Regions from separate parts of the Homo sapiens genome. Here region 1 is linked to region 2. The links come from fine-mapping of genetic effects on gene expression. A gene starts in region 2. The other region holds a variant in brackets. All regions are shown on one strand. Distances are from middle to middle.

Region 1 (5,494 bases), 70 kb after region 2:
TCATGGGTTAGAAATCTGTCATTATGGTACTATATTGGAGCTATCATAACTCAAGTGTCTTTTGAACTAATTTTCCTCCCCCTTTCCTCAGCTTAACATCTAATTTCCTTTTTAAATGAGAGCTCCTTGAAACTGTCTTGCTCACTATTCTGATTTAATTCAATATCTTCATTGCTGACCTAATGAGAGTTGGAATGTTATTTCTTCTATTTTGGAAGGGACACACAAAATGGCTGGAATGTAATTCGGAATTAAATAAGTTTCGACAGGGTGTACCTGTTTTACAGTAAATGCAATTATTGTAATCATCCTTGTGCATATAAACTGTTCAGAGCATGATTGGGTCACACGTATTCAGAGCTCAAAGGAAAGAGTCAGTTATAATTTAGCTAAGGGACTGGCCTGCTATAGAGTATAGTAATTTGGTCACATTGGAGAGCATTTTAGTAGCTATTTATCAGCTACACTCTTTTTGTTGTTGTTGTTGTTGAGACAGGGTCTCACTCTGTTGCCCAGACTGGAGTGCAGTGGCGTGATCTCGGCTCACTGCAACCTCTGCCTCCTGGGTTCAAATGATTCTCCTGCCTCAGTCTCCCAAGTAGTTGGGACTACAGGTGCATGCCACTACCGCCCAGCTAATTCTTGTATTTTTAGTAGAGATGGGATTTCACCATGCTGGTCAGGCTGGTCTCAAACTCCTGACCTCAAATGATCCACCCGCCTTGGCTTCCCAAAGTGCTGGGATTACAGGCATGAGCCACAGTGCCCAGCCGCAGCTACACTCTAATATGAGAATAAAACAAAATGAAAAGGGATGGATATGTAATATATGGTTCTTAAAACTGGGATCTAGGTTTGTTCATGTTTGAATGCCTAGTAAGTGTTTACCATATATATGGCTAAAGGCATTTCCCTTATTAACCTCCCTTTATTTATCTACCATCTGTGTATGTGGTATAATTTAAGAGATACTGAAAGATCCATTTGCCCTCCAATTTTTGCCATTCTAGTTTGATATGAGACTTGAAATCCTCACCATGACAGCCGTTCCTCACCATGATAGCCATCCCATTCAATTAAGTCATCCTGTTGAAGGTCCCCAGGACTAGGCGAATATTAATACTTTTGCCAGGTACCTACTGTCATTCATCTCCATAGTAAAACTGCTCACTTTATTTTTAAAAGACAGTGTCTCACTCTGTCATCCAGGTTGCAACCTCAAACTCCTGGGCTCAAGAAATCCTCCTGCCTCAGCCTCCCAAGTAACTGGAATTAAATGTGAGCCACCACACTTAGCTAATTAAAAACTTTTTTTTTTTTTTTTTTTTTTTTTAGAGATAGGACCTTGCTATGTTGCTCAGGCTGGTCTTGAACTCCTGGCCTCAAGCAATCCTTCTGCCTCAGCCTCCTAAATAGCTGAAATTATGGGCATGACCCACACTCACTATTTTTGATGATATTCTCACTTTACCCATTCCAACCTTCCTTACCTCCTTCCTGAGAATTTCCCTAACTCCTTATATATTTAACCAATTAGTGGCTGTAGGAAAACAGCCTGTTGTATGGCAAGAGTGATGCCATCTTGAAGTGAAACCGCCGTGATGATTGATGTTTGACCCCACATACCAAAGTGTTCTTTAAACAATGCCTGTAGCATGGATAACCCCTCATAAGGATGTTTGCCTAACCTGCCCAGCGGTCACGAATTTCACAAGGAAGTCTGAGGCATAACTAGCTGCACATGTTTTACCCTAAAAGCTTGCTATATAAAGAATACTTTCTGCAGGATGGGTGTGGGGATCCACCATCTTGTGGCCACCAGAGAAATGGCTCCCACTGGTAAGTCCCTATTAAATATTTCTTTCTGAGAAACTAAATTTGTCTGCTTCTTTCTTTGGCCTCTCAGCACCCTTGGCCTTTGGGGGTAGGTTTGCATAGACCTGCTTACCACAGAACAGCAGTTGTCTCTGCCCCTGTCATGGTCCCCACCAATCTTGAAGTAGGATTTACTGAGTCTTTGCATTTCCGCAAATATAGTACATACCTGCTATAATGCAGGTATGTACAACCCCTTATGTGTACAGATAAGGGGTTCTCTGTCTTTCTTCCATCTGCTGGCTGAATCCCATACTGTTACTGGACTTTCTGTCAGCCCTCATGGGCACTGCTTTTCTCTCATGGATCTGTGAGTAATAAAATGCTTTGGTTA[T/A]TTCATGTGTTTTGGTGTGCCCACTTCCTCTATGTCTCACCTGACCAACACACCTGAACCTAACTCTCCTTATAGTCGGAGCTCTCCTAGAGAGTGGCTCTCTTGGTAAGAATAAACTGGACACAGGTCAGACACAAGCCACAAGGGTATCTGCCAGTGTAAACAAGCTTCCTGTGAGAGGTACACCTGGTCACAGGTTGGAAATGTAGGCATTAGGCCAGGATAGATAAAGAAGTATTCTGTGAAGCATACTGTAAACATCCACAACCACCTCCCTGGAGCCCTGTCAGGGCAGGGCTAGACTTTATAGCTACTCTCCTGGGAAAGATCTTTTTCAGGACCAAATCCCACAAAAAGATCAAATGAGAGGAAAGTACTATTGGTACAGTGAGTAGGGTGTGTGGTCACAACTGTGAGGGACACAGCAACATAGCTTTAGCCTGCTCTTGGCTTACTAACTGGCTCTCCCGTGTGGCTGACACCATGTGGGAAGACCCCCTATTGCTGTGTGCTGCTGCCTGCCGTCTTAGTTGAGTGCTGCCAAAACTCCCCTCCCTATGTTGGATGGGTCCTAGAAAGTCCACGTCCTCCCTGGGAACCATAAATTGCCAACCTTAGTAGGGTAAGAGGGGTGACCATGGTCATTATCACTCCCCAGAATAGGAACTACTGGTCAGACTGAAATGGACTATATTCCAAGGCCTTGGATGTCTCATTATTACTCATTACTTACAGGCAGGAGCAGGTGACATGGCTCGGATGTTTGTCCCCTCAAATCTCATGTTGAAATGTAATCCCCAATGTTGGAAAAGGGGCCTAGTGGGAGGTGTTGAATCACAGGGGTGAATCCCTCATAAATGGCTTAGTGACATTCTCATGATAATGAGTGAGTTCTTGAGATACCTGGTTGTTTAAGAGAGTGTGACACCTCCCCCATCCCCTTGTTCCCTCTCTTGCCACGTGACATGTCTGCTCCTGCTTAGCCTTCTGCCACAATTGTAAGCTCCCTGGGACCTCACCAGAAGCTGAGCAGATGCCAGCGTCATTCTTCTTGTACAGCCCACAAAACTGTGAGTCAATTAAACCTCTTTTCTTTATAAATTACCCAGTCTCAGGTACTTCTTTATAGCAACCCCAAATGGACTAAACAGAAAATTGATACCAAGAGTGGGGTGTTGCTATAAAGATGCCTGAAGATGTGGAAGTGGCTTTGGAACTGGGTAATGGGCAGAGATTGAAGGAGTTTGGAGGGCTCAGAAGAAGATAGGAAGATGATAGAGAGTTTGAAACTTCTTAGAGACTGTGAGATGGTTGTGACCAACATGCTGATAGAAATATCAGCAGTGAAGGCCAGGCTGACAAGGTCTCAGAGGGAAATGTGGAGTTATTGGGAATTGAGTAAAGTCACCTGTGTTATGCCCTAGCAAAGGGCTGGGCTGCATTGTGTCCGTGTCCAAGTGTTACTGGAAAGGGGTCCTGATCCAGATCCCGAGAGGGTTCTTGGGTCTCACACAAGAAAGAATTCAGGGGGCTGGGTGCGGTGGCTCACACCTGTAATCCTAGCACTTTGGGAGGCTGAGGCAGGTGGATCACCTGAGGTCGGAAGTTTGAGCCCAGACTGACCAACGTGGTGAAACCCTGTCTCTACTAAAAATACAAAAATTAGCCCAGTGTAGTGACAGGCACCTGTAGTCCCAGCTACTTGGGAGGCTGAGGCAGGAGAATTGCTTGAACTTGGGAGGCAGAGGTTGCAGTGAGCTGAGATCACACCATTGCACTCCAGCCTGGGTGACAGAGCGAGACTGCATCTCAAAAAAAAAAAAAAAAAAAAAAAGATGTCTTAGTTCTACATCTTAAGGCCCATTGAAATTATCTCATAAAAATCATAGTCTGACAGATATTTTATGACAAAGTATGCTTCACAGTTTTTATCTCTGATCAGACATTAGAAGCCCGTGGGAGGCTGCTTGTCAAAGCCTGTGAATCTCCCTTTTTATTCCCAAGGAAACGCTTAATTCTGAAAAGCACTGTTAAAAATGAGTCTGGCCACTGAATATAAAGTACTATTGTGAATAAATGATATTCTCTACTTCCTGGAGTCCTAAGTAGAGTTCACTTTGGTCTCAAAATTTCTGCTACTGACAAGTCTGATTCCATATAAACTTTTTTCAGTTGCTGTGTGAGCAGCACCATCGTGCATTACAGGAAAAAAAGCTTCTCTGCTCTCTACTTTGTACACCTGCTTGAACTGATGTGGGCTTCAGAATTTGCCATGTTTGGTTGGAACAGTAGCTTACTAGAGGATTTGGGCCTCTGGATAAATCAATGAAAGCACCAAAACCAATAGTAATAAGACCACCATTTAGTAGAATGGTGTATATCTGCGCCTGAAAGGAATTTTTGTTTTGGGTGGAAGTTTAAGTTTGAACAGGCCCCATATCTGATAAGCAGCGGCCTGGCCTGCAGGATAATCTATAGTGAATGAGTTCCAGGACAAGAGTGCCCTACTGCTGGCCTCCAGCCCTTAGAGGATGGGGGTGAGATTGAAAATTTGTAAAGATAAGGCCAGGAGCAGTGGCTCACGCCTGTGATCCCACCACTTTGAGAGGCTGAGGCAGGCAGATCGCCTGAGGTCAGGAGTTTGAGACCAGCCTGGCCAACATGGCGAAACCCCATTTCTACTAAAAATACAAAAATTAGTTAGACATGGTGGCACGTGCCTGTAATCTCAGCTACTCAGGAGGCTGAGGCAGGAGAATCACTTGAACCCAGGAGGTGGAGGCTGCAGTGAGTTGAGAACACACCACTGCACTCCAGCCTGGGTGACAGAGCAAGTCTCCATCTCAACAAAAAAAAAAGAAAAAAAGAAAATTTATAAAGATAAGCTAAGATCTAGGGAAAATTGGAAATTTATTTGGGGGTTTATTTGTTGAACTGGAATTTGAAAGGAGTTGTTTGAGGTCATTATGTCTTTCAGTTAAACTGGTTATCAGACACCTATCAGGGACATGAAAGTTCTAGTGAATTTCTTTTTCAAGAGCCCAGCAGTGTGTATTTTAAAGAGTGAAGTGTGTGTCTTGGTATTATCAGTAATGTCTGTAACTCGAAGGGGAATAAGGAGTGTTCTGGCCTGTGCTTGTAGTGTGGCCTTAGTGTATGTGGAGACCTATATGATTTTGATTTATATTTTGGGTGTGTGCAAGGCAAGAAATTCTGAGAGTTTGTTTTTTTTTTTTGTTTTTTTTTTTTACTTTATAGGGGACAATTTTTAGGTTATGGCCCAAT
Region 2 (5,256 bases):
ACTCTGTTACCCAGGCTGGAGTGCAGTGGCACGGTCTCAGCTCACTGCAACCTCCGCCTCCCAAGTTCAAGTGATTCTCCTGCCTCAGCCTCCCCAGTAGCTGGGATTACAGGCATGTACCACCATGCCTGGCTAATTTTTGTGTTTTTTTTTAGTAGAGATGGAGTTTCGCCATGTTGGCCAGGCTGGTCTCAAACTCCTGACCTCAGGTGATCCGCCCACCTCGCGCTCCCAAAGTGCTGGGATTACAGGCGTGAGCCACCGCGCCAAGCCCAGAGCTCAACTTTTATGAATCACTTTTTGAATCAGTTGTCCATGGCTGTAGCTTTCCACCAAAAGTGTTGGTGATGCATCTAACTTTAAGAATGCTCCAGCTGGGCACAGTTACAGCTCATATCTGTAATCTCAGCACTTTGGGAGGTGAATGTGGGAGGATCCCTTGAAGCCAGGAGTTCGAGACCAGCCTGGGCAAAAAAGTGAGAACCCCCATCTCTACAAAAAGTAAAAAAATTAGCCAGGCATGGTGGCACACGCCTGTGGTCCCAGCCACTTTGGAGACTAAGGCAAGAAGATCGCTTGAGCTTGGGAGGTCAAGGCTGCAGTGAGCCGTGTTTGCGCCACTGAACTCCAGCCTGGGTGACAGAAGGAGACCCTGTCTCAAAACAAAAACAAAAACAAAAACAAAAAACAGAGAGGGAGAGAAAGGAAGGAAGAATGCTGCACTATTGTATGCAGGATTTTCTTCCAAGCAGCTGATCTTATTCTGCAAGTTTTGATGCTGGCACCTTCTTGATCTCACCTGAATATGTCAATTTTGTGTTTTCACGCAAAACATTCAGGACTTGTTTTCCTCCTTCAATGGTGTTATTGAATAAAAGCTGTAGGGGTTGTAACTGACTAATCAGGCTATCAAGAATAATATCGAAGTTATTTCATTTTTGGGGGGTGCAAGTAGGCTTAGTATTTAACTGTTCATATATGGGTTCCCAAAATCCATCAAGAATGAATGTACTTGGTAAGTAACTCAGGGCTCCCAGAAGACTACTAGTTCTTAGCCAGTCCCATCTCTTTCTTTTCTAAATGCTGGGGAAATCTCTTTTTGGTCCTAGGAAAATCTTCTCCAGGCAAATCTTCCCTCTTTCCCTAGGAAAATCTCTCTCCAAGTTTGAGTGACTTTTGTCTGTTAATTCCCTTCCTCCTAGGGTTATGGGTTTTATTAAACAATGCACTTATCTCAGTTGAAATGAGGACAACCTGCACAGCAACATCCACGTTGTAATACGTGGAGGTAATGACAACCAGGTCTGTACTGCCACCCGGTCAACGAGAGTTTATAAGATGCATCTTGATTTCACAGATGTTAAAATGTGGGGAAAAACATGGCTTAGCATCTGTGAAATACATAATGTCATGGTGCTTCGATCAATGTATAGTGGATTTTCTATAATTCCAAAGTTGGGATGTGGAAAAAACTTGCCTTAAAAGAAATCCGTACTTTTTGGTATGTTAAATCTAAGGGAGGTTATAAATCGAACAGTTGCAGGAGCCCAACTTTAAAGTGAGAGAAAGATGTAGTGGGGGAAGAAGGAGCTGAGAAATACAGAAAGAATAAAAACAATGGACGCAAAAGCAATAGGCAAGTTTTTTTGTTGTTGTTCTTTAAAGGGACAAAATCACAAGCTTACTAAAAAGGGTAACGACAATTACAGCTACAGCCAAAGAGCAAAGTAGCTCATTTTAAGATTATTTTTACATTAGACATAAGCTTTGCAACAGGGCCTCTCTCCATTTTAGTAAAATTGGTTTAGGTGTTTCAGAACCTTCTTATCGCAGATTATAATTTCATATTCAGTAGTGTGATTCATTTAGGTTTGTGATCTCCGTTACACTTAAACTGTTTTTGCTCACAACTATATTCGTAATGGGGTAGCGCAGTGAATATAATTGCATGACCTAATGTTGTTTGTTAATATTTGTAACCCTTTAATGTGCAGGATAGATCTTTGAATACCTAACTTCCTTAAGCCTCAGTTTTCTCAATTTGTCAAAGGGGGACAATAATAGGATTCATTCAGAGTTACTCTGAAATGAAATGCAATAATGTATAGAAACCTTAAACGGTGCCTAGCACAGAGCAAGCGCTCATTGAACAGCAGCTTTTGTGAGATGCACCTCACTATGAAATAGGCATGGAAACGGAAACGACTAGCTCTCTTAGCCCCGTTTTCTTTTCTACATTCATACGTTGCTTTGAATTGGCAAGCAGTTTTTATTTGGACCCTCAAACGCTAAAACCTTGGTCTCTACTTCGCGTCCCAACTGTGCTTATGAGTCTAGTCATTTTTGTTGGAACGCGATAGATTTCCCAAGCTCCGGAGTGGGGCCCTGACCAGGGAGGAAGTGTCCGCTTTAAGAGCTTCTGGAGGGGAGGAAGGGGCTCCTCCGCCCGGGTGGGAGAGTGAGTGAGTGGGTGGGCGGGCAGGGGGCGGTCCCGCCGCTCCTGCGTCAGAAGGGGTCTGGTTTTCGCACCTTCCCTGACGTCAAACCTCCATCAGGGTTGCAACGCCACGTTGCCTTGGATGCCTGCGTGAGTGGAGTCGCGACTCGGGGCCCGCGTCCTGAGAGACGCGCTCCCGCGCCGCTTCTCGCCTCCGGACCGCAGGGGCCGAAGTCGCCTATTTCTGGCTCCGCGGGCAGCGGGGCCGTGGCGCTCGGACGGTCTGGGATTCGGGCGCCGCCGCGGAACCGGAATAAGAAGGGAGAGCGCCCGGCTCGGTCCTCGGTCTCCACCGCGGCCCGGAAGGAATCCGGGCAGCCTCCGCGGAGGTGAGTGCCGCGGCGGGGGCGGGGCGCGGCCGGGGCGACGCCCGCGGGCGGGGCCTGCTCGCCGGGCGCCCGGGGCGCCTTCTTCCCGAGGGACGCCAGGACCGCTCGCTGGGCTCCCGCGGCCGCCTCGCAGGTCCTCGGCTTCCCCCCACCCCGCGTCCCTTTCTGCCCCTGCTGCGTGAGAGGTGTCGGCGGCTCCGGGCCGGGATCGAGGTGGCGGGGCGAGGGAAGGAGGTGGGGCGCAGGCTGCATTGCGCTTCTGTCCGGGGCCCTGGGTCAGAGGGGCCGGCGGACGAGGCCTCGGGTCCGGGCTTGGGGAGGGGGCGGTCTGCGGGGTCGGATTGAGGGCCGGGAACCCGCGGAGTCTTGCCCCTGGGCACCTGTGGGGCCGAGATCCCGAGCCACCTGTCCACACACCCCCTTCCCCCAGTGCCCTGCGTTGGGTCCAGCTGGCCCCAGACCTAGGCCTTTCCCAGCCTCGGGCGATTATAGTTTATTTGAAAACGTTTGATTTTTGTGTTAATGATTCTTTTACTACCGCCGTGCAACAGTTGTGTAAATGTGGTCGTGTTACGCCATCGTTTTTACTTGCTCCTAAGAAGGGCCTTACCAGCTCCTGCGATTATCTCACGCGATGATTCTTGGTAGCTCGTGAAAAAAATGCATAACAAGATACTGGTTCTCAAGGGACCAAAACCCCACCCCCACCTAAAGGAAATAGCTTGTTTTTGTTTTTCTTTTTTACAGCAATATGCTACGTGTGGGGAGGGGGAGGGACGATGGAGGCAGCCTGTAGCGATCTCATCCTCGAGAGAATCTGCTAACAATTTGGGGGGTATCTTTCCTTCCTTTTTAATTAATACACAAACATATATACGTGTGTTACATAAGGGGTGTTTATTTGCTTTTTTCACTTAATACGTGGAAGACCTTTTCTCTATCGTTTGAACCTAAAGCCTAGAAGGCAAGAAAGCAACTCGTTAGAGAGTTGATAAAGTATCACTGCAGTGGCCAGTGATTTGGATAGAAATAAGCTGAATTCAGGGTAAGAACTGGTTTCTATAAAATATGGTTTACTCTGCATAATAATTGGAGGCAGTGTTTTTTCAAACTGAGTTTTTTCAGCCGGTTCGTGAATGGTGAAATTAATTTAGTCATGACTAGCATTTAAAAAAAAATAAGATCGCATAAAAAAATCAGAATGCATTATATGTAATGAGAGTATTGTTTTGTGAAAAATATTTTAACTGTGCGCGTGTGCATTGTGAAATTTAGTGGGTCGTGACTAGCATTAAAAAAAGTAAGATCGCATAGAAAATATCAGACTGCATTACATGTAATGAGAGTATTGTTTTGTGAAAAATCTTTTAAGTGTGCGTATGTGCCTGTGCGTGTGTGCTCGGTTGTAATTAAAAATTTATTGGTTCCTGTGTGTCATGTTAAATAATCTTGAGAGTCGCTAATCCAAGGTACTGTCAGCACTCAAATGAGCAAGATGCAATTAAACTAGACATTAGTTTTATTTTTTCTTTGGAATAGTGGTGATGTTGATTGCAGCAAATAAGAGTCCTAATTATTTGTTTTCACCTAATATTAAAACAAGTAGTATTCCTAAAAATACAGAGAGGAAGTGTCTAAGTCGTTAAGAGGTTAAAGCATAAACTACTCAAATTGACCAGTGATCACATCTCAGTTACGCTGGTTATTGGTGTGAGACCTGCAACAAGATACCTCTTTTCTCTCAACCTCAGTTCCCTGATTTGTTAAATGGGAATTAATCATGGCAGCTACCTTATAAAGCTGTTTGTTATTTAGATGAGATAATGCACAGGAAGCTGTTGACAGAGCGCCTGGCTCAGATTAAGTACTAAGTATTAGCTATTATTATTTTATTAAGACTGAATAGAGGTGTCTAGGATAATGCTTGTCACCAGAGGAAAGCCAGCATAGCGTGGATAATCCAGAAAAGGGGAAAATTGAAAATTAGTAGTGTTGTGTGGAGGAACTGACACTGAATTAGTGTGGTCTTTTTATGCATTCGGCCATTGTTTTGTCATTGCTCCTCAATTGTTTCCCTACTGCTGGACGGAAAATTTAGATTGTCTTATTCAGAAAACCAAATGCCTTTCTATTGTCTTTCCTTATTATTATTATTTTTCAAATTAAGTTGATGTCTCTTTTGTCAGGCAGTTGAAAAATATGTTTTATGAGGATTGTGGGTTTTGTTAGTTCTTACCACACTGCCACGCCACACTCAGTTTGAGAAATACACACACGACAACTCCAGACTCATTTCAGAAATATTTTTATCCATGTTTACCTCTGCAGCTGGTGCAGATCTCAGGTGTGCAAGAAATATTTCTTTAAAAAAAAAAAAACCAAAAACAAAATGCTGTTTTATTTGTATTTTAAGACATTTCTGCCTAAGTC

Alleles and levels. Positions count from the first base shown, and alleles are read on the strand shown. Sizes are in standard deviations (SD) of each study's normalised expression.
In carriers of allele T in region 1, the expression in tibial nerve of the gene that starts at base 2,543 in region 2 tends to be higher than with A alone (small effect, 0.23 SD a copy in GTEx).

The links. PIP is the estimated chance that this variant, and not a neighbour inherited with it, causes the effect.
Region 1: its variant is the best candidate, but not a certain one, in a credible set for the expression of ZDBF2 in tibial nerve (GTEx, PIP 0.90).

Annotation. Positions count from the first base shown.
Region 1 is chr2:206,341,630-206,347,123 of GRCh38, forward strand. No RefSeq gene overlaps it. Among named protein-coding and RNA genes, the nearest start is that of ZDBF2, 70 kb to the left of the region's middle. The variant T/A (reference allele first, on the strand shown) is at 2,210.
Region 2 is chr2:206,272,121-206,277,376 of GRCh38, forward strand. It overlaps ZDBF2 (zinc finger DBF-type containing 2), which reads left to right and starts at 2,543. Exons shown (of 5, transcript NM_020923.3): 1 at 2,543-2,826. RefSeq lists silencers at 2,438-2,497, 2,778-3,237 and an enhancer at 2,901-3,400.